Regions from separate parts of the Homo sapiens genome. Here all the other regions are reported to be linked to region 2. Evidence: microRNA targets listed by miRTarBase, many of them from high-throughput screens and not tested one by one. Region 2 holds a microRNA gene; each other region holds the end of a gene's coding sequence.

Evidence for each region. The annotated mature microRNA hsa-miR-1226-3p reads UCACCAGCCCUGUGUUCCCUAG and lies in region 2 at 3,721-3,742, shown strand. An mRNA with a match to its seed (bases 2 to 7 or 8) in the 3' UTR can be bound and repressed. Matches are read on the target gene's strand: a 7mer-m8 pairs with bases 2 to 8, a 7mer-A1 pairs with bases 2 to 7 and ends in A, and an 8mer does both.
Region 1: the mRNA of IPO7 is a reported target of hsa-miR-1226-3p. Seed matches in the 3' UTR shown: 7mer-A1 at 1,555-1,561.
Region 3: miRTarBase lists GIMAP8 as a target of hsa-miR-1226-3p. Seed matches in the 3' UTR shown: 7mer-m8 at 3,185-3,191.
Region 4: miRTarBase lists MRM2 as a target of hsa-miR-1226-3p. Seed matches in the 3' UTR shown: 7mer-A1 at 3,684-3,690.
Region 5: miRTarBase lists BLMH as a target of hsa-miR-1226-3p. The part of its 3' UTR that is shown has no 7-base or 8-base seed match.
Region 6: miRTarBase lists CKAP4 as a target of hsa-miR-1226-3p. The part of its 3' UTR that is shown has no 7-base or 8-base seed match.

The regions. Positions count from the first base shown.
Region 1 is chr11:9,444,382-9,449,452 of GRCh38, forward strand. IPO7 (importin 7) reads left to right here. Exons shown (of 25, transcript NM_006391.3): 25 at 716-3,746. The coding sequence ends at 813. Among named protein-coding and RNA genes, the nearest start is that of ZNF143-AS1, 14 kb to the right of the region's middle.
Region 2 is chr3:47,845,888-47,850,887 of GRCh38, forward strand. MIR1226 (microRNA 1226) reads left to right here and starts at 3,668; the gene lies at 3,668-3,742. It overlaps DHX30 (DExH-box helicase 30), which reads left to right. Exons shown (of 22, transcript NM_138615.3): 11 at 278-1,114; 12 at 1,386-1,461; 13 at 1,545-1,649; 14 at 1,894-2,069; 15 at 2,293-2,499; 16 at 2,582-2,663; 17 at 2,737-2,930; 18 at 3,033-3,192; 19 at 3,305-3,462; 20 at 3,564-3,667; 21 at 3,743-3,882; 22 at 3,980-4,306. The coding sequence ends at 4,233. MAP4 (microtubule associated protein 4) reads right to left here. Exons shown (of 21, transcript NM_001385682.1): 21 at 4,808-5,000. RefSeq lists a silencer at 1,284-1,385.
Region 3 is chr7:150,476,836-150,481,922 of GRCh38, reverse strand. GIMAP8 (GTPase, IMAP family member 8) reads right to left here. Exons shown (of 5, transcript NM_175571.4): 5 at 2,530-4,831. The coding sequence ends at 4,143. Among named protein-coding and RNA genes, the nearest start is that of GIMAP8, 29 kb to the right of the region's middle. RefSeq lists a silencer at 2,144-2,378 and an enhancer at 3,829-5,028.
Region 4 is chr7:2,230,772-2,235,846 of GRCh38, forward strand. MRM2 (mitochondrial rRNA methyltransferase 2) reads right to left here. Exons shown (of 3, transcript NM_013393.3): 3 at 3,424-4,793. The coding sequence ends at 4,351. It overlaps MAD1L1 (mitotic arrest deficient 1 like 1), which reads right to left and starts at 2,174. Exons shown (of 19, transcript NM_001013836.2): 1 at 2,101-2,174. RefSeq lists silencers at 1,673-2,092, 2,070-2,448 and enhancers at 2,083-2,377, 2,163-2,292, 3,027-3,559.
Region 5 is chr17:30,244,366-30,249,452 of GRCh38, forward strand. It overlaps BLMH (bleomycin hydrolase), which reads right to left. Exons shown (of 12, transcript NM_000386.4): 12 at 3,838-4,803. The coding sequence ends at 4,652. All of the region lies in intron 2 of LOC105371720 (a long non-coding RNA gene), which reads left to right. Among named protein-coding and RNA genes, the nearest start is that of SLC6A4, 11 kb to the left of the region's middle. RefSeq lists an enhancer at 4,092-5,087.
Region 6 is chr12:106,234,808-106,239,894 of GRCh38, forward strand. It overlaps CKAP4 (cytoskeleton associated protein 4), which reads right to left. Exons shown (of 2, transcript NM_006825.4): 2 at 3,074-5,087. The coding sequence ends at 4,217. Among named protein-coding and RNA genes, the nearest start is that of CKAP4, 11 kb to the right of the region's middle.

The DNA.
Region 1 (5,071 bases), not on the chromosome of region 2:
ATTTGTTTGAGTGACACTGTCACCCAGGCTGGAGTGCAGTGGTGCAATCTCGGCTCACTGCCACCTCCATCTCCCGATTTCAAGTGATTCTCGTGCCTCAGCTTCCGAGTAGCTGAGATTGCAGGCACGCACCACCACACCCAACTAATTTTTGTATTTTTAGTAGAGACGAGGTTTCACTATGTTGGCCAGGCTGGTCTCAAAAACTCCTGACTCCTGAGGCGGATGGATCACTTGAGGTCGGGAGTTCTAGACCAACCTGGCCAACATGGTGAAACCCTGCCTCTACTAAAAATACAAAAAATTACCCGGGCGTGGTGGCACGCACTTGTAGTCCCAGCTACTTGGGAGGCTAAGGCAGGAGAGAATCGCTTGCACCTGGGAGGCAGAGATTGCAGTGAGCCAAGATCGTGCCGCTGCACTCCAGCCTGGGTGACAGAGCCAGACTCTGTCTCAAAAAAAAAAAAAAAAAAAGATTTTTTTCTTAACAGTGGGAAGTGAAAATTGGCTAAGAAGTCTACAGCATACAGTAAAAGAGATTATATTCTCTACATAATGCATGCTCCCTTGCCCTTATACATTGGAGAAATCATGGATTTTGGAACTTCCTGGCCACTAATGATGGTTAAGCTACTGGCTTGTTTAATGTTTTGTCAGTTTCTCACCAAGTTAGTAGATGATTGAATGCCCTACTAAAATTTTATTTGTTTTCTAGAATCCAAAATGATTGAGAAGCATGGAGGATACAAATTCAGTGCTCCAGTTGTGCCAAGTTCTTTCAATTTTGGAGGCCCAGCACCAGGGATGAATTGAGTTATCTCTTTCTTTCCTGCTGTGTGCTTGTAGTGAAGAGCTTGTGTTCCTCCTAGTAGTGGTTCCAGAACTGGTTCATGTTATCTATTCTAAACTAATAATCAATAGATGGACAAAAGAAACAACAACCCCAGGAGATGGGACCTGATCATGCAACCTGGCACTGGAAAAGAAATCAGCGGGATTTTGGGGGTGGGGGGGGATGGGAGGTACCTTAGAGGGAGTATTTTCTTTATTTTTTGAAGAAAGTAAGATCCTGACTCTGAAGCTTCAAAGTGACACTGTGGAAATCTGAAACGAGGGGATGTCATGAAGGCAGCTTTTCTTTTTCTGAGGAAAAAATAGGCATGGGCTACAGGACTATTTAAAATGTCTCATTTACAGTATAAAACTCAAAGGTAGATGTAATTTTTACACCTATGAGTATTTGTCCAATTTCTGTCTCTTCCTCACCATTGGGTATCTATTCTTTATATGTAAATAAGATAAGGTCATCTGATAGCCTTATTCAGTCTTCATCATTTTCATCATTGTTCCTATGTAGATTATTGGACATTTATTGTAGCACTACATAACTGATTATAAAAATCTGTAAATGAATTAGCACTTTCATATTGAAACAAGCCTGCTAGCCTATGTATAAAATAGCAAAATGTTTGCTGTTTATAAAAAGATGTAATGGGGTGGGGGGCAGGGGTAATTTCAAGTTATTAATTTAAAAATGAACTAGCAATTTTGTACCTGGTGACTTTGTGGTGCACTCACCTCTGATAGTGACTTGAATTCGGTATGTAAAAAGGGGTTAGTGGTATTTCATTGCTGCTAAAAATGACAACTCCCTCTGTGTCCTGTTTTTCTTAAAGCTGTCAGTGTACAAGTGGGTATTTGAATACCAGACCTTACTGTAAAAAATAAAAAAGGTGGTATCTAGAGCATGTAAATTGGATATAAAGTTCTGCTCTTAAAGAGTTGATCTAAGAGTATGGCTAAACATCTATATATGCAATCTATTAAAAGAACTTAATTCGGCTATTATGTCTTGATTTGATTGCAGTTTTTTCCTAATTATAACAAATTTTTCCTCATTGGCCTGTTTTTAATCCTGTGCCTAGAAGGAGTACAAAATGCACACTTTACAAAATTGATATTTAACACTTACCCACTCCCCTTTCCCCATCTCTTCTACCGCTCTTGTTGATCGTGGTATCTGATCTTGACTAGATAGGCTGAAGGCACATGGTTCCCTCCAAAAACCACTATTGATACCACTACAAAAACAAGCCAGCAAAAAGATACTGTAGAGAGGTTGGCTTGCTTCCCTCTCTTCCTAACTGCATGTTGAAAAATAAGCCGTTATTGATCTTAAACATCGGTCAGATGAGTCATACATTGGGTTATTTTTTATATACATGTATACACAAAATATTTCAAATTGAAAGCAACATCTTAATGGATTCAAAACTATTACAAGCTGTTGTCTAAAACAGGTGAGAAAAAAATTTATAACTGTAAAAACAAATGCACATATTGATATTTAAAATGCGTAATTAAGAAAACCCATTGTTGTTGTGTTTTTCTTGTATACCAATAATTAAGCCACTACTGTTGGCACTGTTTGGTTTTCTATTTTAACACTGAAGGAGTGAAAGTATTTCCTATATTTATGAATTTACTACTAAAATCTTGGCAAAAAAAGAAAAAAATTGTCTAACGTGTGTGGGTGAAAACTGTTAATCAAGTGTTTCTACTCCCCCCCGAAAATCCCCTGAAAGTTGGACACCAACTGTATACCCTAGGTTGCTTAAAGGGATTTCACTATTATATAAAGTCAATAAAAATGAAGTAGTTGTATATATGCAACATTGTGTACAGAGGGGAAATAATGAATAGTATTAAAGAAACATTCTCGTCTTCCTTTACCTTTAATCCCCTAATACCTAGTCTACTTTTTAAATTTTCAGACTTCACTGCTTTTTGAATTCATAATTCTAATTTTCACATTATTGTTAATGGAAAATCATATCTAATAAAGGTTTTAGTTATTCCCATGCACAGTATGAAAATTCTCATTTGCTGAGGTTTTGTTTCAAGAAAATGTATTGGCATGTCTTTGAGAACATGTTTTATTGTCTCCTGTGTCATATAATCCAAACTAATCTCCGTTTACAGACTTTAACTTGAAATTAGACCTTATAATTAAACTATTTAAATAGTGTTCAAATGATAGTTTCTAATGCATCAAATATATACCTCAGTTTTCATGATTTCCTTTAACATTATAATTTGGTATAGATCAAGAATCTTAACATGTATCAGTTTCTAGATGAGGCTGCAGGATTTTTGGAAAACTTTTTGAATGTATTTACAATATTCTCTTGTAATTAGCTACATAGGGACTTGTCTTTTTTTCTTTTTACATACAGCTTTTCCTACAGTTTTATTACCCTGTAATTTTTTTTTAGTTGTAGAAGTTAATTCTGATTTTGTGTGGATTTCAGTATTTGTCTTTGTTAATGGCACATATTAGCATAAATCACTTTTGTAAATGTAAGCTTTCTTTTTTTTTCTTGAAAAAGCCTTTCTATTTATCAGTATTAAATAAAGGAAGTTAATCTGTTTCTCTGCAGGTAATAAAATAGTGACACACTGTATTAAGATAGTGACTGCTATACTCAACTCTGGAAGAGACTAGAGTATAGAGCATGAGTGGCAAAACCACAGCCCTTGGGCCATATGCTGCTATTCAGTCCCAGATGTAGCCCCTGAAGCAAGCATAAAGAAAAATGAATTAAAAATTAAATTAATATGGAAAGTTAAAAAATGGATTACATTAGTATGACTAAACCATGTCTTTGGCAAAGATCTAACACAATGTCTTAAGTATAATAGGTAGTCTCTGTTTGTAAAATAAATGACTTAAATTTAAAACATCAGTTATAAAACTGTCAGTTCTGTTCTTTGTAATTTAAATTTTGGTAAAGATTTTCTGTGACCATTTATCAGTGCCTACTGAATTCTAGCTTTTATCCTTGGTGAGTTGGCCATTCTTGCAATAGCCACTTCACACTTTGGCTCATGGTAAACAAAGGTTACCTGGAAAGTGCTCTTGGAGATAGTACTGGCATCTCTCAATTGGGGGAGTTACCTAAATCAGACCTGCAAATTAGAGAAGGCTAGGATAATAGATTCTTTAACATAAACAGTTAACATTTTAAGTTGACCTGGCAATCCAAAAACTAGCATTAGCAGAAGCAGTATGCTTCTCCAAAGGTCTTCTAGACCCAGGCTGTAACTCAGCTAACTGAAGTGATCCAATACTGTTCTAGGCCCTTCATCCTTTGTATGTAGTATTACCACTGAATAGATTTGTATGTAGTATTATGACTGCATAAAACAAACAATGGGGACAGATATATCCCTTTCCTTTAAGGACCAATACAGTAGGCTGTACTCATTGTTGCCCCTTATATAAAGGGTCAAAACATATTCTTATGACCATGCATATCAAAAGAAGCTGGACAATGTGGTTCTTAAGCTAGGCAAAATCTTTGGTTTTAGCACTATAGGAGAAATATATAAGTTCTTGTGTGTGTGTGTGTCTGTGTGAGGTAGTCATCCCCACTCCAGGTGTTTTTTTGGTGGTGGTGGTGGTTTTTTTTTTTTTTTTCCCTGAGATGGAGTCTTACTCTGTCACCCAGGGTGGAGTGCAGTGGCACGATCTTCGCTCACTGCAACCTCTGCCATCCAAGTTCAAGTGATTCTCCTGCCTCAGCCTCCTGAGTAGCTGGGATTACAGGTGCCTGCCACTGCACCTGGCTAATTTTTCTATTTTTAGTAGAGAAGGGGTTTCATCATCTCAGCCAGGCTGGTCTGGAACTCCTGACCTCGTGATCCACCCACCTCGGCCTCCCAAGTGCTGGGATTATAGGCGTGAGCCACTGCGCCCGGCCCCCTCCAGGTGTTAAGGCACAGGTGAGAATTCTCCTTTATATATTTATAGATGCTGGGCCAGGCACGGTGGCTTATGCCTGTAATCCAAGCACTTTGGAAGGCTAAGGCCGGAGGATCACTTGAGCCCAGGAGTGCAGGACTAGCCTAGGCAATACAGCAAGACCCTGTCTTAAAAAATAATAATAGGCTGGGCATGGTGGCTGATTCCTGTAATCCCAGCACTTTGGGAGGCTGAGGCTGGCAGATTACCTGAGGCCAGGAGTTCAAGACCAGCCTGGCCAACGTGGTGAAACCCCATCTCTACTAA
Region 2 (5,000 bases):
CTGTAGTCTGCCTCCATCTCTCCAGACTGAAGGCCTCCACCTGCGACAGGCAGTAGTACCTCCCCATTCTCTTCACTGAGTTTGGGGCCTGGGATCCCCCTGGCCTGAACAGCCCAGTCTTGCCCACAAGGATCCCGGGGCAGTCATGGACTAAATTAATCCTCTGCCCAGCGGGTTGGGCCACAACATCTGACCCAGGCGAATCCTGCAGAGTGGCTGGTTGTGTGTGAATGAGGAATTTCTTTTTCATTGTTTTGCTTGCCTCCCTGCCCTCCAGTACCCTGTGGAGAGTTCATGGATCGCCCCAGAACTCCGGCTGCAGAGTGATGACATCTTGCCCTTGGGCAAGGACTCAGGGCCTCTGAGTGACCCTATCACAGGCAAGCCCTATGTGCCCCTGTTGGAAGCAGAGGAGGTACGTCTCAGCCAGAGTCTGCTAGAACTGTGGCGGCGGCGAGGGCCGGTCTGGCAGGAGGCCCCCCAGCTACCTGTGGACCCACATCGGGACACCATCCTCAACGCCATTGAGCAGCACCCGGTGGTGGTCATCTCTGGGGACACGGGCTGTGGGAAGACCACGCGCATCCCCCAGCTGTTGCTGGAGCGCTATGTGACCGAGGGCCGAGGTGCCCGCTGCAATGTTATCATCACCCAACCTCGCCGCATCTCTGCTGTGTCTGTGGCACAGCGGGTCAGCCACGAACTGGGCCCCTCCCTGCGCCGGAATGTGGGCTTCCAGGTGCGGTTGGAAAGTAAGCCCCCATCCCGAGGCGGGGCCCTGCTCTTCTGCACTGTGGGTATCCTGCTGCGTAAGCTGCAGAGCAACCCCAGCCTGGAGGGCGTGAGCCACGTCATCGTGGATGAGGTGCATGAGCGGGACGTGAACACAGACTTTCTGCTGATCCTGCTCAAGGGCCTGCAGCGGCTCAACCCGGCCCTGCGGCTGGTGCTCATGAGTGCCACAGGGGACAATGAGCGCTTCTCCCGATACTTTGGTGGCTGCCCCGTCATCAAGGTGCCTGGCTTCATGTACCCAGTCAAGGAGCACTACCTAGAGGACATCCTGGCCAAGTTGGGCAAGCACCAGTACCTGCACCGGCACCGGCACCATGAGGTGAGGGACACCCCCATCCCACCCAAGGCTCCTGGCCTTTCCTCCGTGGATGCCCCTCCTCCCTGGCCCTGGGGCTTGGTGCCTGGGGCAAGTTACCCTCCCCAGTCCTCGGTTTCCTTGATAGAAACTGGGGACTAACCCTGCCTGCGTGGCACACGTGAGGATTGGAGTTGATGTCAAGCGGCTCCGTCTCACTGAGTCAGGTGGCTGTGTCCTTGGCATGACCCCTTACCCCGGGGCTGTGACTGTGGCCTCTCTTCCCCCACCCCAGTCTGAGGATGAATGCGCACTCGATTTGGACCTTGTGACTGATCTGGTTCTGCACATCGATGCTCGCGGGGAACCAGGTGGGTGCCTCCCCATCTGTCCCATGCTAGCCCTGGCCACGTTTGCAGCAACAGCTGGCTCATGCCCCAGGGCTCCTTTACAGGTGGGATCCTGTGCTTCCTGCCTGGGTGGCAGGAGATCAAAGGAGTGCAGCAGCGCCTCCAGGAGGCCCTGGGCATGCACGAGAGCAAGTACCTCATCCTGCCAGGTGAGAGCCCCGGCGGAGGGACCAGGGACCTTTGGAAACCAGCCTGACCTCTGTCCTAGGGACTGACCCAACTGGGACTCCAGGGGCCCCGGTTTCTGACCAAGCTGTGGCACTTTTCACTGGGCATAGTGTTTATCTGCGCCTGTTTCATCAAAATGGGGTCAAAATCCTTGCCCTGCCCACATTCCAGGGGGGAATTCTGGTGGAAGCAGTGCCCATAACTGGTGTGTGTCTTGCCCACCAGTGCACTCCAACATCCCCATGATGGATCAGAAGGCCATATTCCAGCAGCCTCCAGTTGGGGTGCGCAAGATTGTCTTGGCCACCAACATTGCTGAGACTTCCATCACAATCAATGACATCGTGCATGTGGTGGACAGTGGGCTGCACAAGGAAGAACGCTATGACCTGAAGACCAAGGTGGCACCTACCTCCTGGGCCCGGCCAACCACTGGGGGAGGGACTCCGTTTTGAGGTGGTCCCCAGCCCAGATCTACCTTAGACCTGCTTTGTGTGTCTTCAGAAGGCCGCGCTTGTGGGGTCTCAGTGTTCCTGATGTAGGGGGCTGGTGAGGGTTACTCAGGGAGTGGGGAAGCACTGAGGAAGTGGCATTTGTGTGCTGCTTACTTGCCACCTCCTCCAGGTGTCCTGCCTGGAGACAGTGTGGGTATCAAGAGCCAATGTGATCCAGCGCCGGGGCCGGGCGGGCCGCTGCCAGTCCGGCTTTGCCTACCACTTGTTCCCTCGAAGCCGGCTGGAGAAAATGGTCCCTTTCCAAGTGCCAGAGATCCTGCGCACACCTCTTGAGAACCTGGTGCTGCAAGCGAAAATCCACATGCCTGAGAAGACGGTGCGGCGGGGCGGGGCAGGGGCTGGCCTGGGGACCAGGCAGGTGGGAGGCAGGCTCATGGCGGGCTCTGGCTCTGTCATAGGCGGTGGAGTTCCTGTCCAAGGCTGTGGACAGTCCAAACATCAAGGCAGTGGACGAGGCTGTGATCTTGCTCCAGGAGATCGGTATGTAGGGGCTGGGCTGGGCTGGGCTGGGGAGTGGCTCTCGAGGGTGGTACTGACAGCTGAGCCGTTGCAGGGGTGCTGGACCAGCGGGAGTACCTGACTACCCTGGGGCAGCGCCTGGCTCACATCTCCACCGACCCCCGGTTGGCCAAGGCCATTGTGTTGGCTGCCATCTTCCGTTGCCTGCACCCACTACTGGTGGTCGTTTCCTGCCTCACCCGGGACCCCTTCAGCAGCAGCCTACAGAACCGGGCAGAGGTGGACAAGGTCAGTCCTGGCTCCTTCCTGGAGCCGTCCACCCACTGCTGTTCTGAGGGGGCGTTGTCTAGCCCCTGCCTGTGATCCGGCTGCCCTCTTCTCCCCTCCCAGGTGAAAGCACTGTTGAGCCATGACAGCGGCAGTGACCACCTGGCCTTTGTGCGGGCTGTCGCCGGCTGGGAGGAGGTGCTGCGTTGGCAGGACCGCAGCTCCCGGGAGAATTACCTGGAGGAAAACCTGCTGTACGCACCCAGCCTGCGCTTCATCCACGGTCAGTCGGGCCCACACCTGCTCTCCTGAGCCCCTCCCACCCCCACTGAGTTTCTGTCACCTCCAGCCTGTGGCTAGGGGCTGTAGGTCCACCACACATTCTGTCTCCCTAGGACTCATCAAGCAGTTCTCAGAGAACATTTATGAGGCCTTCCTGGTGGGGAAGCCCTCGGACTGCACCCTGGCCTCCGCCCAGTGCAACGAGTACAGTGAGGAGGAGGAGCTGGTGAAGGGCGTGCTGATGGCCGGCCTCTACCCCAACCTCATCCAGGTGCTGCCTCTGGGAGGGAATGGAGTTCACCAGGTCCCAGCCTCCTTCCCTGTCTGCAGCTCCTTGCTCAGCCCCACCCGTCTTTTCCTCCATCCCTGCAGGTGAGGCAGGGCAAGGTCACCCGGCAGGGGAAGTTCAAGCCCAACAGCGTCACATATAGGACCAAATCAGGCAACATCCTGCTGCACAAGTCGACCATTAACAGGTGAGGGCATGCAGGCCTGGATGGGGCAGCTGGGATGGTCCAAAAGGGTGGCCTCACCAGCCCTGTGTTCCCTAGGGAGGCCACACGGTTACGGAGCCGATGGCTGACGTATTTCATGGCAGTCAAGTCCAATGGCAGCGTCTTCGTCCGGGACTCCTCTCAGGTGCACCCGCTAGCTGTGCTGCTGCTGACCGACGGGGACGTGCACATCCGTGGTGGGTGCCTGCAGGCCTCCCGCCCACCCCGCTCTGCAGCTGCTCCTCCGGGGCCTGGCCTCACCACAGTTCCCCACCATCTTTTCCATTCCCTCAGATGACGGGCGCCGGGCCACCATCTCACTGAGCGACAGTGACCTGCTGCGGCTGGAGGGTGACTCGCGTACCGTGCGGCTGCTGAAGGAGCTGCGGCGGGCCCTGGGCCGCATGGTGGAGCGGAGCCTGCGCAGCGAGCTGGCTGCACTTCCCCCCAGCGTACAGGAGGAGCACGGGCAGCTGCTTGCGCTACTGGCAGAGCTGCTGCGAGGACCCTGTGGCAGCTTTGATGTGCGCAAGACAGCTGACGACTGAGCCCTGCTTCTGCTGGGGCTGTGTACAGAGTGCAAATGTTTATTTAAAATAAAGTTCTATTTATCCCTTGTGACCACTGCTGTCCACTAGGGGCTCCTCTCTCAGGGCCTCCATACACTGGGCCACGGTTCCCCAAAGAGGAAGGAGGAAGGTAGGTAGAGAAGAGAGTGAGATGCTTATTGCTGGGGAACGGGCTGGCTGTGGCCCCAAGTCTTTTAAGAGAGAAGGGGGTTGGAACCTCCTCCCTTCACCAAGAAAGAGCATGAAGCAGCGGTGCTGTTAACCACCCCAGTCCCCTGGCACAGCTGCTGCTCTCGGTACCCACCACAGGAAGCCTGTCAGAACTGTCACTGTCCTTGTAGTTTTGGACAGTAAGTAAGCAAGTAAGTGTCAAGTAGCCCTTTATCAGGCAGACTAGGGGAGAGTTCCACAGGTAGCCAAGGCGCAGGGCTATGTGGCACAGTGGTCCTTCCCGTGTCCACATCCACAAGTTCACAGCTGAGGGGCTGAGCTGAGGGCAGGAAGATCCAGGGAGGTGGTAGATGCAAAACGAGACAGAAGCACGAAGCCTGCGTGATGGGACATCAGGCAGCTTTATTTATTTACTCTTAAAACTGTTACAACAGAATCATGGACTGACACAGGTAATGGCTGAGCCATAAGCAAATCGAGAAGTACAGAAATGTCCCACCCCAAACAGCTGCGGAGTACACATCACACAGGGCCTCTGGTCCCGGCCTTCTCAGGTGCTCTGGAGTGGAGGATCC
Region 3 (5,087 bases), not on the chromosome of region 2:
AGGCATGACACCTTGGCCCTGGCTTGACCCCTTTTAGTCTAGCCTACACGCTGCCCTATAATCTGTGGGTCAGGAAACGCAAGCCCGCCACACTACCACCCACCAACATACATGAGGACGATGTGAAGTGAAGAGCAATAAACAGGAAGTTTGTAGCTGAAGAGGAAAATGTATCATGCTGATCATGCTGTTCACAACTAGATTTTACACCAGTCTGTTGAGCACATCCTGTGTGTATTCACAGAAATACAGAGGTGCAAGAGTGAAGGCCACGGAGGTTTCTCATGAACATCAAGCTGCCTCTCATGGGAGAACGGGAGGTGGGCCTGCCGATGCCTTCATCTGCTAGGGAGGATGATAGTGTGCTAGTGGTAGAGGCTGGACCAGTGGGCCCATGGAACAAGCTAATGTAAGGATGAGCTAGGAAGGAGAGGGTTTTTACTGAAAAGGTGGATGCTTCATTTGAGGGAGGAGGAGAAGAGGCTCATAGCCAAGTGGCCTGGGGATTCTTCTAGGGAAGTGAGCTTGCTGGCAGGCTTCACAGATCATGTCAGCAACTTAGCTGACTCCCTTGCAGAAATTTAGCCAAATTTTATGGGACTTTCTGTCGTCATGGAATCACGAAACTATTTTTTTTTTTTTTACTCTTTATGCTAAGTTCATCACAAAAGCCTTGTTCTTCAGTAAATCTTGCTCAGTGCAGGAAAAGAGAGAAATGAAGTGAAAAGGATTGCTCTGAGGAAGGAGAGGAGGCTGGGGGTGCTGGATGACCCTTTGTGAAAAATAAGCATGTTCTTAGTGCATCAGCAAAACAGAGGCACTGTAAATAGGCAAAAAACATTTCCTTAGAAGTTACCTCTCCCACTCTCTAACCAAAAGAGGTCTGGATCATCTGTACATCCTGCAGTCTATCACATTGGTCCACTGTATCAGGGTCTCTCAGCCTTGGGACTATTGACATTTTGGTCCAGATAACTCTGTTGTGGGGGACTGTCGTGTGCATCTTAGGATGTTCAGTAGCATCCCTGGATTCTATTTACCACATACCAGTAGCACCCACTCCCTGTTGTGGCAACTAAAAAATTCTCCAGGAGGCTGGGTGTGGTGGCTCACGCCTGTAATCCCAGCACTTTGAGGGGCCAAGGCGGGCAGATCACGAGGTCAGGAGATCAAGACCATCCTGGCTAACACAGTGAAACCCCATCTCTACTAAAAGTAATTTTTAAAAAAAATTAGCCGGGCGTGGTGGTGGGCGCCTGTTGTCCCAGCTACTCGGCAGCCCGAGGCAGGAGAATAGCATGAACCTGGGAGGCGGAGCTTGCTGTGACCCCAGATCACACCACTGCGCTCCAGCCTGGGTGACTGAGGAAGACTCCGTCTCCAAAAAAAGAAAAAGAAAATTTCTCCAGGAATTGCCAAATGTCTTCTACAGGGCAAAATTGTTTCCAGTTGAGAACTAGCACATTACCTCAATGATGTCACATTGGAGAGGCAGGACAAGCAATAGGTGGCCAGCATGATAGTGGCCTTGGTAAGACACATATGTTTGAGAGAGTAGAATATCAGTTCTGGACTTCCAGCTCAAGGAGGGTCTTCAGTGAGACATGGAGGATGTCCGCCAATTATGGCAGTGAGGAAGGGATGCCACTCTTGAAGGCTTTCACTTCAAGAAGAAACTTGCCATTCAGCTCCAGCTGCAACACTGTCAGGTCCCATCTGAGCTTCTGAGCTGAAGCCATGCTTTCTCCAGCCAGTCCCCAGCCTAAAGCGGAGCACAGCAGAGCTCCTAGTGTCTGTCCAATGCAGGACTTGGCTATTAATCTGTCTTTGCCCCAGAATTCCCTATTGAGTTGGCCTGGGCTTTGCCAGGCTCTTCCTGCCCAACTCAGCTCCTCCCCACTTTTCTCTTGCAAGTGTCCAGTCTAAATGACAGTCTGAAGGCTTTCCCTGCCCAATTTGGCTTCTTCCCTCTTTTGTCTTTCATGAGCTTTCCCCATAAACCTCTTGTGCTCCTAACTCTTTCTCGGCATGTATTTCTCAGAGAAACTGACACAGCAGTATTGTTGCCCCGTTCAGACTTGGACCTGAAGGAAAACAGCAAGGTATGTTAGAGCCAACCTGTGAGAGGATGCCACATTGCTTAGCCCACACATCACCCACCTTGTGCAGCTCCCAGTGTCACCTGCTCAGCCATAGGTAGCACACTGGGATTTGTTTCTGCCTTCAGGCAGAAGGGAAGCTCAGGGAAGAAGCACAAAATGCCTTTCAGACCTTATTCCTCCCATGTTTCTGGTTCTAATACTGGTTACATTTATTTGTCCTTGCTATACTTAGATGTCCAGAGTGAAAGATAACTGAGCTGTCAGGGACCTGCCACACAAATGGCTGTCACCCAGTCTAAATGAAGGTCCTCAGGCACCAAAGATACAAAAACCTCGCCTGAGTCAAGGTATCTAAACATCTCAATTGTCTCTTCATGAAGGTATGCTGCTTCCCTAAATCACAAAAATAGAAATCAGAAAGAGAATGTGAATTCATAATGATTCATCTTTATTATTTGATTCAACTAAATATATTTACACACTTTTTTTTACTTTCCAATTTTTATTTCAGGTTCAAGGGGTACATGCACAGGTTTGTTACATGAGTAAGTTGTGTGTCACAGGGGTGTGGTGTACAGGTAATTTTGTCACCCAGGAAACCAGCATAACACGCAATAGGCAGCTTTTCAATCTTCACCCTCCTGCCACCCTCCACCCTCAAGTATACCCTGGTGTCTATTGTTCCCTTCTTTGTGTCTACGGCACACACATTTTCTAGAAGTTATTGTGTTAAGGGTTATATGGAATCCAAAAGTATTAATGGCAACAGTCCATGTCCTTTTAAATGGATTAATGTTGACGGTAACCTGATATTGTCTAGGGGAAAAAAACAGATGACAAAGATTATGCTCTCAAAGCATGTACAAAGTGCTCAACATTTTACCCTGTATCTATCTTATCCTGTATCTACCCAGAAGAAGGTTCCAGATTTCTCTCTCACATATCACCCACCTCTCAAAATAATCTGCTCAGCTATGGAAAGAACACCACTGTCTTGAAACCAAGAAGCAAATTCGAGTGTAGAAGCCACATCCCAGTGCAGGTGGGACAGAAAGATAGAACAAAACTGGGATGTTGACGCCCACCAGCCCCAGCCTGCTTATTCCTCGGCTTCCTGACAGGAGATACAGGAAGCCCCTGATGTTTTTAAACCATTATTATTGGAGTTCTCTGAGTTTTAACCTGTTTCCTAACCTCAAGGGAAAGAGAAGGAGAAAGAGAAACGCAATGGAGATTCTAATAACCTTCTCTAGAGGAAATCTAGAACAACACTTAGAATTACAGAACTTTGCAAGATTCTCTGATTTTGGCAATCTTACTATGCTTCTAATTTCTGTTCTAGTCTATGTCACTGTGATAATTAGCAATAAAATCATTCAGAACCTCCAAGACTCATGTCTGTTTCCTCAGGGACAGCCAGCAATGGAAGACTATGTCCCACTTCACATCTAGGCGTGGAACGTGAAGAGCCGTAAGGAATGGCTAACGTGTGAAGAAAAGAACACTCTAGCCCTAAGTCGCATCCCAAAGGAGACAGGAGAGCTCAGGGAGCCAACGGCCCTGGACAACAGGGAGGCCCTCTGGAGTCTGCTTCCTGCTTCCGCCATGCCCAGGAGTGTGCTGAACGCTGCCCTGGTCTCATGTATCTGGATCCCCTGGGTTGTTGTACGACTATCTATATTCTCATCCCAGGTGGCCTCAGCCTTGATCACAGTGTCTATCCTGATTCCAACCTACCTACACAAGTGAGGTGATTCTTGTGACTTGATTCTACCACTTATTATCAGCCTAATGTCTGAAATCTTTTTCCAGATTTCCCCACCTTGTATCTTCTTTCTCCTTTATAATACCCTACTATTCGCCCCCACCTGCAATTTATTTATCTACAAATAGCTGATACATCACAAGGCGGGATGCATTTGCCTCTCAGGCCCTCAAAGCCATGAACCCGCTTCCCTTCCCACAGGTTGTACCATGCCCCGCCCCTCCCCCCAACCTGAGGGTGTCTCTAATTGAAGAGACCCCAGGCACTTCGGCTACCTATTGTAAAATACCTATTAAATTTTTAAGGAGTTTTTCGGCTTGGGACATTTCCTGGACATTTTTAATTAGTTTGCTGACGTTCTCCTGTGTATGGGGATACCCGGACCACCCACTTTCTTTTCTCAGATCATTGACCTTTGTTAAAAGAGCTTTCACCTGGGTTTCCTGGGCCTGGCCTGTTTCTTTGTTGTTAAAAGCACAAACTCGCCGCCCACACTTTTTAAAAATGCGCCGAAGGGCTTTGTTATCTGAGTTCTTCATGAAGTCTTCCAAATTCCCCGCCCCTAGGTCTTCCTTCCGGGTGAACAGCATAATCGCGTATTTCGTAAAGTCTGCTCCAAAGATGGCCTCCAGTTTCGCCACAGCTGTTTTGTCCTCTTCAGTGAATCGTCCCAGCTGGAACACCAGGACAAAAAATGTGTCCCCTTTTTCACAGCAGGACAAACAGCGCTTGACCTCCTCTTCTAACCGGGATGGGTCCTTTTCGACATCCAGCATCTGGTTGAAGGAAGGAGTGTCCACAACCACCACCTCCTGTCCGTCCCATGTCCTCCTGCCACTCTGGCTGGTCTTGGTGACTGGCTGGGCCCGGAGCCGAGAGGTGAAGACGAGGCTCCCCAGGATAGAGTTCCCGGTCGCACTCTTCCCAGTCCCGCTTCTCCCCACAAGGACAATGTTCAGGGTTTCTGTCAAAGGAAAGTGGGAAAGATTCGTGACCATGGGCTGATCTGAAATTGGATTTTAAAGTTATCCCATGAAGCAAGATTACATCACTAAAGTAAACAGCATGTTCAAACAGCATCAAGACCTCCTTCTCACCCAAGCAGGGGGATCTCCAAACACGGGAATGACTTGGCCCAGTTCACTCAGTCTGTGGACTCATGGCAGGACTTGGACTACATACAGTCTCCGTCCAGGGTTCATCCACCAATGTGGCACTGT
Region 4 (5,075 bases), not on the chromosome of region 2:
CAGATGGACACATTCGCCTTTTCTCTGTTTTTGTCCTCTCCAGGCCCCCAGGCTCTTAGATACTGCCCCTGACTCTGAGGATGGATCTTCAGCACCTGGTCCACTCAGACTCCCAAGCTCATCTCCTCTGGAAACACCCTCAACAGGCACACCCAAAACCAAAAATGATGCTTTCCCAGGTTTCTAGGAATTCCTGAATCCAGTCAGTTGATGCCTGAAACTACCTACCAGGAGCACTCACAGCAAAGTCTGGCCTCTTGCCCAGGCAGGGTGGTTCACGCCTCTAATCCCAGCACTTCGGGAGGCGGAGGCAGGTCCGGAGTTCAAGACCAGAATGGCCAACATGGCAAAACCCCACCTCTAATAAAATACAAAAACTAGCCGGGTGTGGTGGTGTGCGCCTGTAATCCCAGCTACTCAGGAGGCTGTGGCACAAGAATCGCTTGAAACTGGGAGGCAGAGGTTGCAGTGACCTGAGACCGCACCACTGCACTCCAGCCTGGGTAACGGGGTGAGACAGTGTCTCAAAATAAATAAATGAATGAATAAATAAATAAATAAACATAAGCCAGGCACTGTTGCTCATGCCTGTAATCCCAGCACTTTGTGAGGCCAAGATGGGCAGATCACCACAGGTCAGGAGTTCGAGACCAGCCTGGCCAACATGGTGAAACCCCATCTCTACTAAAGCCAGATGTGGTGGCGTGCACCTGTAATCCCAGCTACTCCGGAGGCTGGGACAGGAGATTTTCTTGAACCCAGGAGATGGAGGTTGCAGTGAACTGAGATCGCGCCACTGCATTCCAGCCTGGGTGCCAGAGCAAGACTCCGTTTCAAAAAATAATAATAATTAATTAAAAAAAAAATCTGGCCTCTGGGAATCAGAAACGAGGCATGCAACAGTGACAGTAAAGATGATGATCATCACAGCTGTGCTCATTTTCATTGTTTATTTCTAGTGACATTAATAAGTACTACTACTATTTTCAACTAGGTATCAGAAAGAAAGGTATCTGACATTTCCGAGCACCGAGACTTCTTGAACTTCAGTTTCCTCATCTGTAAACTCATGACAGTGAAATCTACTTGCAAAGTTGTGGGGAACGGGGCCAATATCCCTCAAGTCTTCCACCGCTAGATGATGGGAATACGGCTGCAGGTTGACCAGCACTATATTTGTAAGCTCAGTCTCAACAGGGTGGTGAATTAGGTCTTTTTACACAGATTCTAGAGATGATGAAACCGAAGCTTCAAAAAGTTACAGAACGGAGATTGGAACTTGGGTCTGTCTGGCTTTGGAAGGCTGAAGACAAACCGCAGTAAAGAACTTTGCACCCCCAACACCGGCGCTTACTATGGGCTCATGGCAGGCCGGCCCACCAGCCACAACTAGGGAACAGCCAAGCGCGTTTAAAAGCCAAAGGTAGAACTTCTGCAGCTGCACAGTTTCTGAGTTTCCATTTAACAAGAACCTTGGCCTGGTGCAAGCAGAGGCCTGAGCTCCCCAGGCTGCCAGCCCCGCAGAGGCAGGCCCGCCTGGAAGGAGGCTCCACAGCCCAATTCCTCCATTGCCCAAACGAGATCAGGGTGGCCCTTGCCATCCCCGAGGGGAAACCGGGCCCACACGCCCCCTTCCTGAGAGCGGACCGGCGCGAGCCACCAGGATGCCAAGAGCCCCTGCAGCCCCGACTTCTCCACCAGGCGCCAGCTCAGGCCCCTTCCTCGGCGCGCCGGCACCCTAGCCCGGGGACCCACACGGTAGGCAGCGGGACCCCGGGGCTGGGACCACGAGCACGCGCCCCTCGGCCGCCCGCCCTGGCACAAGGGACGGCTGCGGAGACCCAGGCGAGGGGCCCGCTGTCCCCAGCACAGCCCAAAGGGGGAGTGGGGACAGGGGAGTGGGGAGAGGAGGGGAGAGCACAGAGAGGAGAGCGCGCCCATGGGAGACGGGGCGGGCGCGGGGTCCTGAGGCACGGGGTCTGGGTCGTTGTGCCCCACCCTGGCGAGCACACCCGGTCCGGGCCCTCGGCCCCTCCCTTGCCATTCCCGGGACCCCCGGGACCCCGGGACCCCGCCGCCCGCGCGAGCCGGGCCGCTTACCTCAGCCGCTCGCAGCCAGCTTGCCGCCGCCGCTCGGATCTCCCTCCGCTCCGCCGGCGCCCATTTATCGCGACACTTGCGCCTGCGCTCTCGCGAGACCTGCGTGGCAATCGGGCCGTAAAGAACCGAGTCTGCGCACCGGCTGATCCTGGGGACTCCGCGTCCGCACCCGGAGCCGCCACCCCTGGGAGACTCCGCACGGAAAGGACTCGGAACCGAAGGCTGAGCCAAGGCGCAGTCGGGGGCCCCCCGGCTTTGCGCAGGACGCGCTTCCACTAAGGCTTTCGCCTCGCGCCGTAATGTGTGGAATAGCCGCGCCCACGGCAGCCTCCTCGGACAAACTTGCACCGTTGACTCTTCCCAAAATTTTGCTACTCAGTATCAGCTTGAATCAATCCGTTATTTTGCTTTTTTCTGGGCCCACTAGAAATGCAATTTATGCTACTAGGCTACCTTCCCAGTGCTCTGCAAGCCAGGGCACAGCATCCAATGGGGTGAGGTCAGGCCCCACCATTATTATGGTAACCTTTGTCTATCCTTCAAATTGGAGCCTTCCTGAGAAGAGTGTGCCTTACTCGTTTCCATATTCTCTTCCTCTCCTCCTCCCGTCTCTGCCCAGCCCCTGGCTTCCCTCTAAGAAGATGCTGTTCCTAAGGGTCTGCAATGAATTTTCCTTCTTTCAGAGAAAGACTTCCAAGTTGTGTGCCCCGGGAATGAAATGGAATAAGAGAACGAGGTGGAGTAGGGCAAGAGTCCCTGGACTTAACAACCTGACTGCAACCAGAAATAAAATGAAAAGTCAAAACATCTGGCGGCCGGGCGCGGTGGCTCACGCCTGTAATCCCAGCACTTTGGGAGGCCGAGGCAGGCGGATCACGAGGTCAGGAGATCGAGACCATCCTGGCTAACACGGTGAAACCCCGTCTCTACTGAAAATACAAAAAAAAAAAAAAAAAATAGCCGGGCGTGGTGATGGGCGCCTGTAGTCCCAGCTACTCGGGAGGCTGAGGCCGAATGGCGTGAACCCGGGAAGTGGAGCTTACAGTGAGCCAAGATCACTTCACTGCACTCCAGCCTGGGTGACAGAGTGAGATTCTGTTTCTCAAAGAAAAAAAAAAATCAAAACATCTGACCCGCAGTTTCCTTCGGGGAGCTGGACAGAGCCCCAGATTCCTGATGGAGATTCCTGGGTTTCCAGACTTCCCCCACTGGTCCTTGGAATTTAATCATAGTCAACAAACTCTTCTTGAGGGATGAGTACACCTCCAGGAAATGGCTTTGAGGAAGCCAGTTTAAAAAAAACAAAACTTCAAAGCATGAAAGTACCTTAAAATAATGCAATCTCTATTATTTTATTAAATATAAAGCTGCGTCAAGTTCCTAGATGAGTAAAAGAAAATAAACACACCACATCACTGCTTGCTTTGGCAATTACATTTATGTTCTTGGGAGCCCAGACACTGATATAAATTTCCAGCAAAAACCAAAGCAGACCCACTGCCTGGATAAATTCAGACCATACGTCTTCCCTAATTGTTCCGGGAACTTTTGCTGCTTGAAGAATGCGTGAATTGCTATATTGTTCACCAGAAAGACAGAAGTTAATCCCCAGATGGAAATTTCAGATTTTTCTTTTGGTTTGCTTTTTGGTTTTTCATTTTTGTAGACATGGGGGGTGTTGCTATGTTGCCCAGGTTGGTCTTGAACTCCTGACTTCAAGCAATCCCCCAGCCTCAGCCTTCTAAAGCCCTGGGTTTACAGGCATGAGTGGCCTCACCCAGCCCCCAGATTTTCTACTTTAAACAGCCACACTAAGAACTGGAAATCTGTGCGTGGTGCTCTCAGAGCAGGGGTGGAAAGCCTGTTTGTGTGTGACAGTTTAACAGTCTATAAGATGAAGTCCCGTCAAGGCACACATGGGCACACCCATCCCTGCCTCGGCGGATTCCTTCTGATCCTTCCCACAGTCTGTTTTTCTCCATCCTTCCATCCTCACCTCTTTCTCTTGATAACTTTCTCTTCCCAAATCACAATATAGCGGACTTTTTCATTTTCCATGGCCCCTGAACTTAGTTTTGTCATCTCTTTTTGGTTAAAAAGAGAGAGAGAGAAAGAGAGAGAGAGACTCCCCACTTGTCCTGCTCCATCTCCAAAATCAGCTCAAATCTCCCAGGAACTCTTCAGGAGCTCAGGCTACGTTTCTAGCTTAAAAGGAGCTAATGACCATTATGAAAATGGCACAAGAAATCCTCACTGCTTCACAGTGCCCTTCCTTCCGTGGTACTGTGTGGCCAAGAAGTACACTTCTGATGACTCTTTCCTGCTGGCTTCAGGTTTGATGATCCTTACATTCTGGAATTCCTCTGTCAGTCTCCTCTGTAACCGACGGCTTTGACTTCCAGCCCAGGTTTTACAAAGGAATGTCCCCCCAGGTTGCAGGATGTCTGGGGTCACGCTGAGAAGGGTCAGGCACAGGCTGATGAGCCTGTCATGATCGAGGTCCCGGAACCCTGTGGCATTGGGCGCCATGTCGCTCAGAATCACATCTGCTCTCCTGCCAGGAAGCACCTCGAGGATTCTCTGTGAGGTTCTCGGGTCAGTCACGTCAGCAGGGCACAGAAAAGTTGCTCCTTCCAGGGGGAATATGTGAAGAAGATCTACCCCAAGCACGAAGCCAACAGGAGAGCTGGGATCTATGGAAGAAATGGTGAATGTGTTATTTATTTACACCCTGAATCTTTTTACAAAAATACAGTACATGCAACAAAGTGATGAAATAAAAATAAAATGTCAAGACCAAGGCAAAGAGCTAATGTGCAAATAGGTAAACACAGGCCTTCTCTATCTATACATCCTATAAAGACACATGGTGGAGATGGCGGGCCTTAACATCTGAGAAGCTGAGGCCCAGACAGGAAGTGACTGTCCTAGAGTCATCCTCAGCCATGGGCAGACCTGTGCCAGGCATCAGGACT
Region 5 (5,087 bases), not on the chromosome of region 2:
CCAAATAGCTACAGCTAGCCAGACGCAGTGGCTCACACTTGTAATACCAGCACTTTGGGAGGCCTAGGCGGGCAGATCAATTGAGGCCAGGAGTTCAAGACCAGCCTGGCCAACATGGCAAAACCTTGTCTATACTAAAAATACAAAAAAAAAAAAAAAATTAGCTGTGGTGGCGCATGTCTGTAATCCCAGCTACTCTGGAGGCTAAGGTGGGAGAATTGCTTGAACCCACGAAGTGGAGGCTGCAGTGAGCCGAGATCGTGCCACTGTACTCTGCACTCCAGCTTGGGTGACAGAATGAGACTCAAAAGAAAAGACAAAACAAAGACCAAATAGCTGCAGCTGTTGTGAATTGAACATTCCCCTATTTCCTTTCCCTCTGCAATAATGTGTAAAGGACTTGGAGTTTGAAAAAGAAAAACAGAAAAACCCGGCCAGTTTAATCCTAGTTTTCAACCCATTTGTGTCACAGACCCCAAGAAGGAAGCCATTGGCTTCATGAGTATCAACAACAGTTCTCAACAAGTTGTCCTAAATATGACCACGCTCATCTGGAATCACTTTAAAAAGTATCTAACTTAACAAATGACTAACTAGAGCCACCGTGGGCAATGGTGCTCACCCACACCACACTAGAGGAATAGGACTTCAAGTCCAAGTGCCCTGGTGCCACCAACAGCAACTTAGAATTAAGCTGCTCTTTAAGGACAAGCCAAAGCAAGCAGATGGGCCACACCACATCCTGAAGGCATGTCTCATTATCATGCCTTGGCTTCTTGGACGTGTAGGGTCACCATTACTCAGGCCAGGACTTCCCAGAGGCCAGTCATGAAGCTCTCCTCTGGTGACACTGTATGATTCACAGTTAAAGCAAAAGACAACTCCATGCCTTCCCATTTCCTACCTCATTCGTCACCCAAATACTAGCAGTTTCTTCCAACTGAGACCTCCAGCTACAACTTCAGCCCATTTCCCTAATCTTTAGCAGAGAAGATAAAACCACCATGCTTCATTTCTCCCCTCTGGATCCTAAGTTCATTTGAAAAATGGCTTTCATTAAGTATTTGGTAATGAAGATTATCTTTTTTACATATTGCTGCATTTGGTTTAGGATTTTTGCATCTATGTTTATGGGTGAGGTTTACATGTATTTTTTTCACTATCCTTATCAGGGTTATGCTAGCCTCATAAAATCATTCTTTAGGCCATAAAGTCGTTTTTTACGTCTTGCCTATTGAGCTAATCGAGTTGCTCCTGAGAAGACTTCCAATTTCCTGGCTACTAGAGTTCTAGCAGCCAAGGATGGCAAGAAGATTCAGAATGTAAATGCTCACTTAGGGGATTCACCTGACACCTAGACTACACACTTCTTCTCTCTCCAGAAAAGAAATCTCTAATGCACTGATGAATGGAGGAAGGGCATCACCAAGCCGGTCGGTATAGGAAGGGGACCCAACAGACATTCAACTCTTTGGTAACCCTCCCTTCACGCCCAATTCCAGAATGCTTTCTGTTGCTACCATATCTATGCTTTTCAGGGGATTATGCACTGTAAATTGATTTGCTTATCACTGGCTTTCTCCACCACTGGCTCAGTGAGATTCAACTTTTTCAGCTCTGCTAAATCTTCCAAGGTCTCCATCTGCTTTCTGGGTTCAAATATTTCATTGGCTCCTCTCCTGGTCTTCCCGAGCTTGTGGATTTGTCTTCTAAACAAATCCCTTTACTGTTGCTTTTGAGAAAGTTGAGAGTATCTTCTATTTTTCTAATATTTGCAGCATCTATAATATCCTTTTAATTCCCTGTGTACTTAAAAAAATTAATATTTGTCAATTTTTCTTTAAAAGAACCAACTTCTGGCTTCGTTGATGCTATGCTTAATTTCTGTGCATATCTACTTCCTTTAGGTTTATTTTGCTGTTCTAATTTCTTGAAACAGATGTTTAGCTCAATTTTCAGCCTTTATTACATCCTAGTATAACTTTGATATTTAGATTTAGAATTTACATTCTATTATTCAGAACTAATTAAAATTCTATAATCTTAATACATTAATGTAATAATTTAATGCTGTAAAACCTTTAAATTACTGTTGCAGCTGCATCCCTCGTTTTGACATATTTTTATTATTGTTCAGGTTAAATTTCCTTCATGATTTCTTCTTGGACCCATGAGTTAATTTCTAAACATACAGAGGTCGTCTTGTAATCTTTTAATTTTGGTTTCTAACTTAATTGCACTGTGGTTGGAGTGTGGTCTACGTGGTAACAACCCTTTCAAATTTGTTGAGATTGACTCTACCGTCCAGTATATGGTCGCTTTTTGAAAAAGTTCCATAGGTGATCAAAATGAATGTGCAGTTGTTAGATGCAATTTTTTTTTTAACAGGTTTATGCTCGGTCATTGGTTTCCACACATCTGTGCTTTCAGGATGAAGATGTGGTCTTCTAAACACGTCCATTTTACCAAACTTGCTAAATGTTTAAATCTCTTATATACTTTCCTGAATTTTTTGTTGCTTGGTCTACATGAAGCATATTAAAATCTCCCACTATGATGCTGGATTTCTTATTTTTCCATATAGCTGTTTTTGTTTTACATATTTTGAGGCAATGTTATTAGGTGCATAACTTAGAATCTTTGTTTTTCTGAAGAATTGGGTAAGCATATCATTATGTAGTGGTTCGATCTGTAGTAATGCTTTTTGTCTTAAAGCCTATTTCCAGGGCTGTGGTGTTCCACAGCTCCAGGGAGGACATTCACATTACAGTTTATGCAAATAAACTGAAATTAGACAGTCTGTTTCGTTACTTTGGAGTGGCCTTAATTCTGTGGGTTATGAGTATAACTTCTCAGTTTTATTTTGGTTAGTATCTGCCTGATGTATCTTTTCCATCCTTTCTTATATTGTAGGTTGCCTATGTCTCTCTCTTGTCATCACATATGGCTGGATTTCTTTTAAAAATACAGTTTGGCATTTTTTTTTTCGGGAACATTTAGTCCATTTACATATAATTATTGGCACATTTAGATTTCTCTCTACTATCTTGTTTTGGATGCTCTATTTGTCCTGCCTTTTCTTTACCCTATCTTGTCTTCTTGACTGATTGCATTTTTCCATTCTATTTATTCTTGATTGAAAACTGTATCCTCTGCTTATTTTTAGTAGATACTATAGAAGTTTTTGGCACAGGTTTACATACCAAAGTCTGAAGTTAAACAATGTATTTATCTTCTTCCTGAAAGACACAAGGATCTTAGAGTATGTTCATTCCAATTACCTCCCCTCCCTAGTTATCTGCTACCTTCATGGATTTTCGTTTTACCTTTTTTCCAACCCTGTTAAGACTCTTCTACAGTTGCTTTTTGTGTAGCTGACCAACATAACAATCATGTTCTTTATTCTACATTCCTTGATACATTTCAACCCTTCCATACTGATCACTTCCCTTCTGTTGGGGCAAATTCAGTTTTTTTTGTGAAAATGTTTTCTATTTTACCCTTGTTCTTGAAAGGGTGGCCCAATCTCAGTAAGATAACTTACTGACCTATTCTAAGGCTGGGCCCAACAGAGCCTCACTCCCCACCCTTGTAGGGACCCTGGATCTGGGTAGAACATTTATGCGGTAGGGGAACAGTCCTTCTTAAACAGGCGCTTGGAAGCCCTTTGCAGATGCCGGTGAGAATCGGCGGTCTGGGAAAGAGTACACATCTTGCAGAGAAGCTGAAGAGGGAAGCCCTTTTCCTGTTTTTTCACTTTCAAGAACATGAGCCACCTGGCTGCTTTCTTTTGTAGATAAACAAACACTTCTCAGACAGATCACATAAATCAGCTTATTCTCATTTAGCAAAGTTTTTATTCAAAAGCTTCTCAGCACCATCTAGTTATCAGAAAGAATGGATATCACCTTTTCCTGCCCACCCAATCCCCAGTTCCACAGGCAGAAGTTAAACCATTTGGCTAGAGTTCCCCCTAATGATTATGACTGAGACCATGATAAGATTTTGGTTGTTCTCACCCAACTGTCTCTAAGCCTCTACTCAAACCTGACTCAAGCAGAGATGTGCACACCCCACAGTTCAGAACAGGAAGGAATCATGTCAGATCTGATCAACCTCCCATTCTTGGGCTATTAGAGGCACAAGAAATTACCTTGAAAAAATGGAATTCAGTGACTGCCATCTAGGAAAGACAGTGATACTGTCCAGCAGCATGCAGTTCCGAGAGCTCAACTCTTAGGCCACCCTCCCTCCACTCTACTCTAGGAACAAGGAGCATTAGGTCTGTTTTCTCTCCATACACCTCAATCGCTCGTCCTCTCGTCTTATTAAAACACAGACACAGAACCAAACTTTTTGACAGTTAAAGACAAACAATTACATCTAATTAAAATGCTAAGAGATCCTGAGCTGTTAGAGATGAGGAGAGTAGATAGTATGACCTGATCTTCCCCCCTCTTTTTTTTCCTTTAACAGTATTCTGTTTCAGCATAAAGCACACTTTCTGAAGAGGTTCCTGGTGGAGACTGGAAATCTGACTGTGTCCTGTGGCAACACACAGTCCCTTGCATAACTTTGGCTTCAGTCCCTGGATCTGTCCTTTGCAGCTACGTCAGGTTCCATGGAAGGAGGAAAGAGCTGGAGGGCAGTATCACTCAGCCAAAGCTCCCATGGGGTCCCATGCTGGCAGGATAATGGGTTCCTGCTCTAACACAGCTAGCACCTCTTCAGGGACATGCTTCCTGTCCACCACCACTTCGTAGACATACTCAGAGAACCACTCATCTGTCATGCACAGGTAACCTGGAGAAAAGAACAGAAGACTTATGAGTCCAGAGGGCAAGGGACAAAGAGCAGAAACCCTTTTTGTAGGATAAACCTTTTACAAAACTAATATTCATACATATTTTTCAGCTTTCCCATCTGTAATTTCATTTAATCTAAATCTTATTAGCAATTCTGTGAAGCAGATAGGACAGGCATGGCTCTATTTTTAGAAAAATTAGAAAACCGGGTCTTGAGTAACTAGGTGATGTGCCCAGGTCACATGGTGAGGTTCAGAGCTGGGCCTTGGACCTAAGGCTAAC
Region 6 (5,087 bases), not on the chromosome of region 2:
TTGTCTTAGAGGCCTCTCCCTTCCTCACCCCACATGCATTCAGCAGCATCTAACCTGGCACATCTCTGACATCCATCTACAACCCTCATCCTCAGGGCACATCGGACCCAGCCTGGACCACGACTTCCCAATGTCCACCTGCCCTCCCCTTGCTCTCCTCCAATCCTGCCAATGCGGGGGCACTCTAGAACCCAGTTCTGACCATGGTTACTTCCCCTGCCCCACTTAAACCCTTTTGTTTATTCCTCATAGTTCAGATCCAAACTCTCAGGGATGACATGCAAGGCCTCCAGGTCCTGGCCCCATTAGCCCTCCTACCCCATCTCCACCCGACTCCCCACCTGTGCTTTCTCTATTCCAACTGCAAGAACTGTGCTCAGCCTCTCAACTCTCCTGACTACTTCAAACCCAGTACCTTTTGCCTGGTACCTGACAACCCTACCTATCTTTTAGAACTGGGTTCAAGTTTTACCACCTCATTATATAGTCACTTCTTTGAAACAAATCTTACCCACACACAAATTATTGAGCTCACAAGGAAGGATAACTTCAAAATATTTAATCTGATGGGCACCCACCCATCAGAACAAATGCAGGCCCTGGGGCTGGAGCAGAGTCTTGTGGTCTCTGCTATACTAGAATATTAACCTATTAGTTGCTGGATTGTAAAGAGGTATAGTGGTCCAGAGAGAGGACATGCAGGGGGTTCAGGGCAGAAGCTATTCACCAACTAGGACAACAGTATTTCAACATTTTAACCTCTGGTATGATCCATGCACGCATGATCACTGAAGCACTTATGATGTGCCAGATTCTGTGCTAACCCCTCAACACGCTCATTCAGTCCTGACAACCACCCTGTACCATCACATCATCTTCATCACCACCATCATCATCTCCATCTCCACCATCATCTCTATTATCAACACCATCACCATTCTAAGTGACTTGCCCAAGGCCACATGGTCAGTGGTGTAGTAGTCTCCTCACCAGGGTGCTGTCAGTCCTGCCTGAGAAGTTTCACTGCAGCCTCTTATCCTGGTGCTGGATCTGCAATTTAACCAACATGTTCAGTAATTTGTGTATATTGTTTGTTCAAAGGGCAAAACAACCTGTTTCCCGAAGCTTCCCATTACTCATGAAAGCATTCCAAGGGACTTCCCCCAGCCCTTCAAAAACCTGTTCTAACCACCTCTAGACCAACCATGGCACAATGGTCACTCCTTCCTCTTGGCCCAATACACCCAAGTATGGCACCTGTATTTCTAATACCTACCACTTTACATGACTGTCATTCCCACTGGGCTAGTCCTGTACATTTTAATTCACTGATACTTAGCAAAATGGCTGGCTATCAGCCCAATAAATGTTTATTGAATGAATGAACACTATATTGAATGAAGAAACAAGACTGAGCTGCATTATTTGGTGTAAGAACTCTAACTGCCCCACCATCAGAAATATGTGAATTCCTAATATATTCCTTTTATTTTCACCACTTGAATTTATATTTATCAGACACTTGTCAATATTTTCTTTTATAATATTAATGAGAATCTATTAAACCACTCCATAGTCAGAGATGAGCAACTGCAGAAATGACAGGAGAAACAGCAAGAACATACTCAATGCAACCAATTGGCCTGAAAAGGAAATGAATTTAATTTTTTCCATGCCTGCGACTTTATGCTGTTCCGCACCCTCCCCAAGTGGGTGAAAGTAGCCATTTAAAGCATACATGTCAATACTTAAGACTTTAAAATAAAAAGTAAAATGGTTTTGAAATAAAAATAGAAATTATTTACAGAGCCTGTCCTGATTTGCTAACTGCTTTGGAAAAAACTTCCAGCTCTGAGTTGTGAAGCTTTGAGGGACCCAGAGTGACTGACAGCAATTCAGAGATGAGGGGCCTTTCAGCCAGAAAGGGGGACATCAAGCCACAGGACCTCAGGTCCTAGCCACCCTCTACTCCCTAGGTGGGAAAGAAGAAATCTCTTGCAGCCTTGGGCTCTGGAACAGGACAGATATTCCACAGGCCAAATGGACCTGCACTGGTGTCAGTGGACGGTAGAGGATGCTGTCCCAGTTAGAGCAAGGATGAGGTCCAAAGCTTAGCCCTGCCACTTCGTAATGAATGACCTTGTATGAAGCTTCTCAGCCTGCTGTTCCTCTGTGAAATGGGAAATGATACTGCCTACCTCGGGGGACTGTAAGAAGGAATAACAGGTTATTATGCATGCTGAGCACAAGACCTGGCACACAGGTACTCAATAAACAGCATGTGGTTTTTATTGGGTGGAGGGTGGAAGGCAATCCAGAGAAGGAAACAAGCCCAGGTGTGCACTAGGGCTGAAGGTCACTCAGATGGTCTGAGACACTGGTTCTCAACCCTGACTGGACATTAAAATCAGAGAGGGAGCCTTTAAAATACCAGTGCTGGCCAGGCATGGCGGCTCACACCTGTAATCCCAGCACTTTGGGAGGTCGAGGCGGGCAGATCACGAGGTCAGGAGATTGAGACCATCCTGGCTAATACGGTGAAACCCTGTCTCTACTAAAAATACAAAAAATTAGCCGGGCGTGGTGGCAAGCGCCTGTAGTCCCAGCTACCCAGGAGGCTGAGGCAAGAGAATGGCCAGAACCCGGGAGGCGGAGCTTGCAGTGAGCCAAGATCCTGCTACTGCACTCCAGCCTGGGTGACAGAGCGAGACTCTGTCTCAAAAAAAAAAAAAAAAAAAACAGTGCCAGCCTCTTTATGCCTATTCAATCAGCATCTGTGCGGGCAGGGCCCAGGCATTTTTTAAAAGCTCCTAGGAAGATTCTAATAGGTAGTGAGGGTTGAGATCCTGTGCTTGAAGCTAACAGAGCTGGAGACAAGTAATCATTGAACACACTTGCTAACAGTCCATCAAAGGAGGTCCCCGGCCCAAGAGTGAGGCCATCTCGGTTTCAGAATTAAAAGAAAAAACAGCCTTAAAATAGTAAACTTACCTATTTGCTAATCGTTTATACCATGTGCTAATAAAACACATCATAATTACGAAATTCTCAGAATGTAACCACTCTGGAAAAGTCATAACAAAGCTCAAGTGTTTATTAAGAATTAAAAATACTGTAAATAAGCCATACAGTTCATTTCACAGTAAACTAAACAAAACTTTTTTTTTTTTTTTTTACTTTTCGGGTTTTTTTTTTTTTTTTTTTTTCAATTTTTTTTGGAAGGGCAAGACAGCCATTAAAGAACAATACAGCTCAGAGGGAAGGGAGATACAGCAAACAATTACACAAACGCAGTATGCACGCTCCTTGCCGACAGGGCTGCCCAGACGGCAAACCTCTTCATGGACATCATGTTAAAATAAAAGGACTTGGCCTGCATTCCCCAGGGAGACCCCCTATTCCACTGTAGACAGCTCTCCTCACGAATTTTTTGAAAGAACCCAAGGACTCCCCTTTCTGGTAGTCGAAACCTGTGCATTCCTTGGTGACCTCCGGAGAGAGAACATGGGCCGGCAGTGGGGACAGAGGGCACCGGGACTCTGCTGGGTGTAGTGCTTCACATTCAGAACCGCCTGGATGCTTTGCATAGTTACCTCTGATATCACAAGATGCGTCAGGAAGAGAAACGACACGCACACCATGAGGGAGGCAGCCCTCAAGCAGCGGATTCCTTTCAAAGAAAGACCCAGGGGCTTCTCCCCTCCTCATTCAGAGCTGACAGCTATGAGCTTTAACCGGTTCAAAGTGGAAGACAAGTGAGAGATATCTCATAAAAATTTCGGCCAGAACAAAAAAAAAAGTAAAATTAATTTTCCTTAAAGACAACTAGAAAGAAAAGGGTCCCCCCAACCCACCTTTTTTTTTTTTTTACTTGAAATCTGCCAGCCAGACAGGATTTCTGAGGTTAATCTGCTTCTGTTAATCCTCAATTTAAGCCTTTATCATTTTTCTCTGACTAGAGACATCCATGAAAAGCCACCTGTTATTCACAGGGGCTGCGCTTCAGGAAACCAACCAAATGCAGAAGCAGAGAACTTAAATATTGTAAATAAGTTAACTGGGCATGAAAATACAATGCCTTGGTGTTCAGGTGGTGACAACTGCTCTTTAAGAGGGGACAAGAAATTGGGGGGTAGGGGACACATGGGAAAAAACCACACATTTTTTGGTCATGAGAAATTGGACTTTAAATCCGCGCCCTGCACACGCAATTCATTTAGACCTTTTCGTGAATCTTCTCCACTTTCACAAACAACCTATCCAGATCATTCCTCAGGTCATCTAGTAAACCCTTGGCTGATTCCAGATTGTTCTCGTTGGTTTCTATTTTGACCGAGTATGCAACCAAACTGTCCACAGCAGTCCTGAGCATTTTCAAGTCCGCCTCCACTTGGCTGACTGAGGCTTTCAGGTTGTCTAGAGAAGAAAGTCTGTCCAGGAAGTCCTGAGGAGGCAGACGGGCGGCCTGGGCTTGGTCCTGACTGAGCAGCGTGTGCACCTGCTCCTGCACCTTCTGGAGTGATTCCACGGTGCTGGGGAGCTCGCCCACACTCCTCTTCAGCTCCTCCACGTCACCGTAGAGCACCAGCTGGGTCTCGCCCAGGCTCCTCACCGTGCTGGCCAGGCCATCCTGGTCTGCCTCTGAGGACCCGAGGCCTTCCAGGCGCCCCTGCAGGGCGGCCAGGCGCTGCTCGTGCTCCTGGCTCTTGGACAGGAGGGACTCCAGGCTCTCGGTCTGGCGCGCAGAAGCCACCTGCATGGAGAGCACCCCATCCTCCACGTGCTGGAGCCTGGAGTCCAGTCCCTGACTCTTTTGCTGGAGTGCCTCAAAGGCTTCCGAGTGTCTGAAGCCTCCGTCCTCCTTCGGCCCGTGGGAATCGGACTTCAGCTGGCGGAGCTCTTCCTCCAGTCTCCGGATCTCCTCCGGGAGGCGGGAGACGGACTCCTCAGACCTGAGAAGCTTCTCCGTGAGGGCCTGCAGGGCGAGCCGCTCCGTGTCGGCCGCCTCCTTGAAAGCCTGCTGCTCCTGCTTGAGGCTCACCAGCTCGCGGACCTCGGTGTAGATGTCAGACTCCATAGTCTGAAGG